2 linked regions of the Homo sapiens genome follow. The protein of the gene in region 1 purifies or fractionates together with the protein of each later gene. This does not show direct contact. Each region holds a gene or a part of one and is shown in the gene's direction. Other genes may lie near its edges.

Evidence for each region. Proteins that work in one complex are often made in the same cells at the same time.
Region 2: the proteins of MTFMT (region 1) and UNC45B purify together in Homo sapiens (affinity purification with mass spectrometry; one large-scale study listed by BioGRID and IntAct). This does not show direct contact.

Annotation. Positions count from the first base shown.
Region 1 is NC_000015.10:65,012,640-65,016,139, reverse strand, and holds part of MTFMT (methionyl-tRNA formyltransferase, mitochondrial), read left to right. Parts: intron 1-3,500. UniProt on the Homo sapiens protein: Methionyl-tRNA formyltransferase that formylates methionyl-tRNA in mitochondria and is crucial for translation initiation.
Region 2 is NC_000017.11:35,175,229-35,178,957, forward strand, and holds part of UNC45B (protein unc-45 homolog B), read left to right. Parts: intron 1-739; coding exon 740-806; intron 807-1,788; coding exon 1,789-1,902; intron 1,903-2,266; coding exon 2,267-2,382; intron 2,383-3,729. UniProt on the Homo sapiens protein: Acts as a co-chaperone for HSP90 and is required for proper folding of the myosin motor domain. Plays a role in sarcomere formation during muscle cell development. Is necessary for normal early lens development.

The DNA of each region.
Region 1 (3,500 bases):
CTAACAGGAATGTCCAGTCACTAAATAATGAACTTAAATCTTCTCACTCCTAATCCTGTGCTTCTTCCAGTATGTCTTTCTGCCTTTAGCCAATTTTTTACAATCAAATTGTTAAATCATTGATTTCTACATATGGTACACCAAGTGTAGTAATATAACAGTTTGTTAAAATGTCTGAGTTAAATTCTCAGTTCATTGATAAATTTGTGGGGTTTTTTCCTTTCATTTCAATAGCTACTTGTGTTATTTGAACACTGAGCTTACCGTATGTGTGTTTGTGTGTGTGTGTTGTTTTATTTTTTGAGACGGGGTCTAGCTCTGTCACCCAGGCCTGGAGTACAGTGGAGAAACCTTGGCTCACTGCAACCTCTGCCTCCCAGGCTCAAGTGAGCCTCCTGTGACAGCCCCTGAGTAGCTGCAACCACAGGCACACACCACCACACCTGGCTAATTTTTGTATTTTTTTGTAGAGACGAGGTTTTGCCATGTTGCCCAGGCTGGTCTTGAACTGCTGAGCTCAAGTGATCCGCTCTTCTCAGCCTCCCAAAGTGCTGGGATTACAGGCACGAGCCACTGTGCCTGGCCAAGTGTGTGGTTTTTAATGGACCATCTCTGTTATTAATGTTGGGTAAAATGGGGAACCACCATTGGATATCTATAGCATGCTAAATTCTTCAGTAAGGAGGATCACAGACTCATGTTATAGTTATTATCATCCCACTTTAAAGTTGAAGAAATTGAGGCTTAAAGTAGATAATGAATTGTTATTAAGTGTTACTCGATGTCGTGTTGCTAGTTAATGAAAGTCAGAGTCAGGTTTTGAACGAGATCTATCTTACTTCAAATCCTATTATTTTCCTGCTGCCACAGAATGGCATCAGGAAACAAGGACCATAGGGCCAGACAGTGCTGGGTTCCATCTTGACTCTGCTACTTCCTAACGTCGTAGACTCAGGAAAGTTATTTAACCTCCGAGCTTTAGTTTGTTCCTTGGAATATCAGGGCTGGTATAATATATTTACAGCATCTTGTACAGTATCTGGCACAGAATAGGTACTCATTAAATGATAGCTGCTATTATTCATTCATTCATTAAACAAAATATTTATTGAAGGCCTATTATGTGTCAAGCAGTGTACTAGGTACTATAGAAACAGGTGTTGTGGGAGGACAGACAACAAGTAAGCAAAAAAAAAAAAAAAAAATCAGGCCAGGCATGGTGGCTCACACGTGTAATCCCAGCACTTTGGGAGGCTGAGGCAGATGCATCACCTGAGGTCAGGAGTTTGAGACCAGCCTGGCCAACATAGTGAAACCCTGTCTCTACTAAAAACACACAAAAAAATTAGCTGGGCGTGGTGGCATGCGCCTGTAATCCCAGCTACTAGAAAGGCTGAGGCAAGAAAATTGCTTGAACCTAGGAGACAGAGGTTGCAGTGAGCCAAGATCACACCACTGCACTCCAGCCTGGGCGACAGAGCAAGACTCTGTCTCAAAAGAAAAAAAAAAAAAAAGACCGGGCATGGTGGCTCACGCCTGTTATCTCAGCACTTTGGGAGGCCGAGGCGGGCGGATCACCTGAGGTCAGGAGTTCGAGACCAGCCTGACCAACATGGAGAAACCCCGTCTCTACTAAAAATACAAAAAAATTAGCCAGACCTAGTGGCGCATGCCTGTAATCCTAGCTACTTGGGAGGCTGAGGCAGGAGAATTGCTTGAACCCAGGAGGTGGAGGTTATGATGAGCCGAGATTGCACATTGCACACCAGCCTGGGCAACAAGAGCGAAACTCCATCTCAAAAAAAAAAAAAAAAAAATCAAATAGTGTGATAAATTCCTTGATGAAAATAAAAATAGGATCATGTGATAGAATAACTGGAGGTTATTTTAGATCGGTGATGGGGAAAGCCTCTTTCTGACACTTAAGCTGAAATCTGAAAGACAATAAGGAGCCAGCCATGCCTAGAACAGAGAAGAGCATTCCAGGCAGAGGAACAGCTAGTACAAAACCCAAGGTGGGCTAACCCAAAGAATCACAAGAAAAGGAAACTCCAGACTGATATCCCTGAATATAGATGCACAAGTCCTCCACAGAGTTAGCAAACTGAATCCAGCAACATATAAAAAAGGATTATACATGATGACTAAGTGGGATTGTTTTTTGGGTTTTGTTTTTTGTTTTTTGTTTTTTTTTTTTGAGATGGTGTCTCGCCCTGTCGCCTAGGCTGGAGCGCAACTGTGCAGTTTCAGCTCACTGCAACCTCCGCCTTCTGGGCTCTAGCAATTCTACCTCAGCCTCCTGAGTAGCTGGGATTACAGGCATGCAGCACCATGCTCAGCTCATTTTTTTGTATTTTTAGTAGAGATGGGGTTTCACCATGTTGGCCAGGCTGATCTCAAACTCCTGAACTTGAGTGATCCGCCCACCTCAGCCTCCCAACATGCTGGCATTACAGGTGTGAGCCATCACACCCTGCCCCAAGTGGGATTTATCCCAGGAATGCAAGGTTGGTTCAACATATGAAAATCAGTCAATGTAACATATCATATTAGTAGAATAAAGGACAAAAGCTACATCACTGTCTCAATAGATGCAGAAAAAGCATTTGACAAAATCCAACACATGTAAAAAAACCTCAATAAACTAGAAATAGAAGAGCATTTCCTCAACTTGATAAAGGACATCTATGAAGACCCTGTAACTAACATCATACTTAATGAAAGAAGCCAAGTGCAGTGGTGGACACTTGTAGTCCCAGGTATTTTGGAGGCTGAGCGGGAGGATTGCTTGAGGCCAGGAGTTCGAGACCAGCCTGGACAATATAGCCAGACTTTGTCTCTTAAAAAAAAAAGAAGAAGAAAGAAAGAAAATAAAAGAAAGACAAAGCCTTTCCCTTAAGATCACAAAGAAGATAAAGATGTCTGCGCTCTCAAAGTTAAATGTCTTCTATTCAACTTTGTTCTGTTGGGGCAGTTAGACAAGAAAAAAGAAACAAAAGGCAACCAAACAAAAGTTTGGAAAGGAAGAAGTAAAGCTGTCTCTATTTGTGGATGATATGATCTAGCATATAGAAAATCATGAAGAAGTTCCAAAAAAAACTATTAGAGCTAATAAACAGTAAAGAAGACCCAAGTAAATGGAAAGACCCCAGTATTCATTGATTGGATAAACTTAGTATTGTTAAGATGTCTCTACTCCCCAAGTTGATGTACAGATTCAACACAATTCCTAAAAAAAAAATCCCAATTGGCTTCTTTGTACAAATTGACAAGCTGCTCCTAAAATGTATACAGAATTGCAAGGGGCCCAGAATAGCCAAAACTAACAAAATTGGAGGACTCATAGTTTTCAGTTTCAAAACTTGCTGTAAAACTACAGTAACCAAGATAGTGTGGTACTGGCTATAGCTCATTAGAATCGAATTAAGGGTCTAGAAATAAGCCAGGCATGATGGCTTATGCCTGTAGTCCCAGCACTTTGGGAGGCTGAGGCAGGTGGA
Region 2 (3,729 bases), on another chromosome or scaffold:
GAAAGGAGGCCACTGTTCCTTCTTGTTACCTTGTTCTCAGAGATTAAAGGCACAGTCTGTGTGCAGCCTGGCCAGGGAGGCAGGCAAGATCACAGCTACAGTCCGATGCAATGGATGCCATGATGTGGGAAGCATAAAGGGCTGATTGGAGCACAAGCAGTGTTCCCCAACCAGCCAGACTGGAGGGGAGGTGGGTGGGCAGCTGGTAAGGCCTCCTGGGGGATGTGACAACTCAAGCTCTGAAGGAAGCAAAGGAGCCACCTAAATGCAGGAGAGGGAAGGTTCCAGGCAGAGAGAATAGCATCTGCAAAGACACTGAGGATGGAGAGAGAATGAGTGAATTTGGGGTTCTCCTGCAATATGTCTGGGGCAGGGAATCCATAGGAAGAGCTGGTGCTGGATGAGACAAAAGAGGAAGCCAGAGCCAGATCACGGAGGACCTGGGGCACATCCATTGAAGTTGAAAAGCTTCTCCTGGGTGGTTGCATCCCTAAATAGTGATAGTGGGGAGTGCTCTTTGCAGCCTCACTTGGCCTCACTTCCTTCCCAGCCAATTATTCCCATGATGTCATCTTCCCAAAGTGGTTAATTCTGGGGCACAGGCACACAAGTGGCACTTTCCATAGTCTCCCTTTTCATCCCAGGGTTTCACTGGCTCCGACTGGCTGGCCTGCTGCTGCTGCTGCCTGGGAAGGTGTGCTGGTGTATTAACTGTTCTCCTTTCTTCTCGGTCCCACAGGGTATTCCTGGCACTGTGTGACAACCCAAAGGACCGAGGCACCATTGTGGCTCAAGGTGGTGGCAAGGTAACTGGGCAGGTGCCTTCCTAGAAGGTGCCTTTGTGCATGCTCTTTGCCTAGCGCAAGAATTATGTACCCTCTGCCCCAACTCGACCTCCTGGAATACGGCCACCAGTTATCTGCGCTGTCTGTGCTCATAGCCCCAAGCCAATTTCTGCTTGACTTTATGCTATGATGGTATGTACTTTGGAATCCCATCTATCCTCCTTGCTGTTGGAAGGAAGCACCGTGCAAAGACAGACCCTGGACTTTGATGTAGAAGACTTGTAGTTGAGTTCTTGCTCTTCCCATTTCTGACTGCATAACCTCAGGCAAAATACTTAATCTCCCAGCCACAGCTTCTTCATCTGTAAAATAGGGGGAAAATCACACTTTCAATTTGCAGACTGTCACAAGAATTAGAGAAAATATAGAAAGTATTGATTCATGGTAGGTGCTCAATAGATGTCTGATGTTAAGATTGGGTTTGGCTGCAACTCCGTCTCTATTAAAAATACAAAAATTAGCTGGGCCTGGTGGCGTGCACCTGTAATCTCAGCTACTCAGGAACCTGAGGCAGGAGACTTGCTTGAACCCAGGAGGAGGAGGTTGCAATGAGCCGAGATCATGCCATTGCAGTCCAGCCTGGGCAGCAAGAGCGAAACTCTGTCTCAAAAAAACAAAACAAAACAAACAAACAAAAGGATTGAGTTTGGCTTGGGCAGAAAGTAAAAAATTTGTTGATTGAATTATTTATTTTTCCAAAAGCTGAAGGAATATTTAGGTGGGTGGGAGGAAGTGGGGTAAAGACCTGAATGTGCACTGGGAATCAAGAGGAGTGAATATGTGATTAAGGATTTAATTGTTTTCCATGATGTGCAAGGGCTGATTATACGGCAGAATTTTCCTGGACCTCCCATGGGACAGACAGACAGCACCTGGAGCAGGAGGATAGGCGAGAAGCCTCTGGATGTCTGTGACTAAGTAGTGACCTTGCCCTTTCTTGCAGGCCCTGATTCCCCTGGCTTTGGAGGGCACAGATGTGGGCAAGGTGAAGGCAGCCCACGCTCTAGCAAAGATCGCTGCTGTCTCCAATCCGGACATTGCTTTTCCTGGGGAGCGGGTAGGTGCTTGGGTAGATGGGATAGGGCAATGGGAGGGGTCTCCTTTGCTCCTAGAGGCCTTTCCCCTTGTCATTCTACCTCGAGCCTGGGACAGGGGCATGGTGCTGTCACACGGAGGGTGATGCATGGAGGCACCTGGATTCCAGGCCTGGTTCTGCCTCTGACAAACCGGATTGCCCTCTCCAAAATTCAGTTATCCTATCTATAAAGAAAATAATCCTGCCTGTCAGGATCATTGTGAGGATGAAATCAGACAATGTATGAGAAAGTGCTTTGGAAACTTTACAGCTGGTCACCTATAAATGTGAGGCACTCAGGGAACAAAGTCCTCACCTGACCAAACCCTTGACCCCTCCCCAACAGGTGTATGAGGTGGTGCGGCCCCTTGTAAGACTCTTGGACACACAGAGGGATGGGCTTCAGAACTATGAGGCTCTCCTAGGCCTCACCAACCTGTCTGGGCGGAGTGACAAACTCCGGTGAGTGTGGTGAGTGTGGCAGGGGTGGAGAGAGGTGGCTCAAAAAGTGTTTGTTTGAAATTTCACATAATGTGCTGAGAATGCTCTTCTCTGAAGACAACACAAAGGCAAGGGGTGGGATTTGAGTTAGCACAAATCCACAAACCACACAGTGACTATACCAAAGCCAAAAAATGCTACAAGGCCCTTCTTTTTCTTTTCTTTTTTTTCTTTCCTTTTCTTTTCTTTTGTCTTTTCTTTTCTCTTCTCTTCTCTTTTCTTTCTTTTCTTTTCTTTTTTTCTTTCTTTTCTCTTTTCTTTTCTTATCAAGACCGAGTCTTGCTCTGTCGCCCAGGCTGGAGTACAGTGGCACTATCTCAGCTCACTGCACCCTCTGCCTCCAGGGCTGAAGCTATTTTCCAGCCTCAGCCTCTCGAGTAGCTGGGACTACAGGAGTACGCCACCATACCCAGCTAATTTTTGTATTTTTAGTAGAGACAGGGTTTCCCCATGTTGGCCAAGCTGGTCTCAAACTCGTGACCTCAGGTGATCTGCCCGCCTTGGTCTCCCAAAGTGCTTGGATTACAGGTGTGAGCCACCGCACCCAGCCAGCACTTCTTTCTACAGTAGTAATGATCACCATTCTAACTGGCGTGAGATGGTGTCTCATTGTGGTTTTGATTTGCATTTCTCTGATAACCAGTGATGATGAGCATTTTTTCATGTGTCTGTTGGCTGCATAAATGTCTTCTTTTGAGAAGTGTCTGTTCATATCCTTTGCCCACTTTTTGATGCGGTTGTTTTTTTCTTGTAAATTTGTTTAAGTTCTTTGTAGATTCTGGATATTAGCCCTTTTTCAGATGGGTAGATTGCAAAAATTTTCTCCCATTCTGTAGGTTGCCTGTTCATTCTGATGATAGTTTCTTTTGCTGTGCAGAAGCTCTTTAGTTTAATTAGATCCCATTTGTCAATTTTGGCTTTTGTTGCCATTGCTTTTGGTGTTTTAGTCATGAAGTCTTTGCCCATGCCTATGTCCTGAATGGTATTGCCTAGGTTTTCTTCTAGGGTTTTTATGGTTTTAGATCTTACATTTAAGTCTTTAATCCATCTTGAGTTAATTTTTGTATAAGGTGTAAGGAAGGGATCCAGTTTCAGCTTTCTACATATGGCTAGCTAGTTTTCCCAGCACTATTTATTAAATAGGGAATCCTTTCATCATTTCTTGTTTTTGTCAGGTTTGTCAAAGATCAGATGGTTGTAGATGTGTGGTGTTATTTCTGAGGCCTCTGTTCTGTTCCATTGGTCTATATATCTGTTTTGGTACCAGTACCATGCTGTTTTGGTTACTGTAGCCTTGTAGTATAGTTT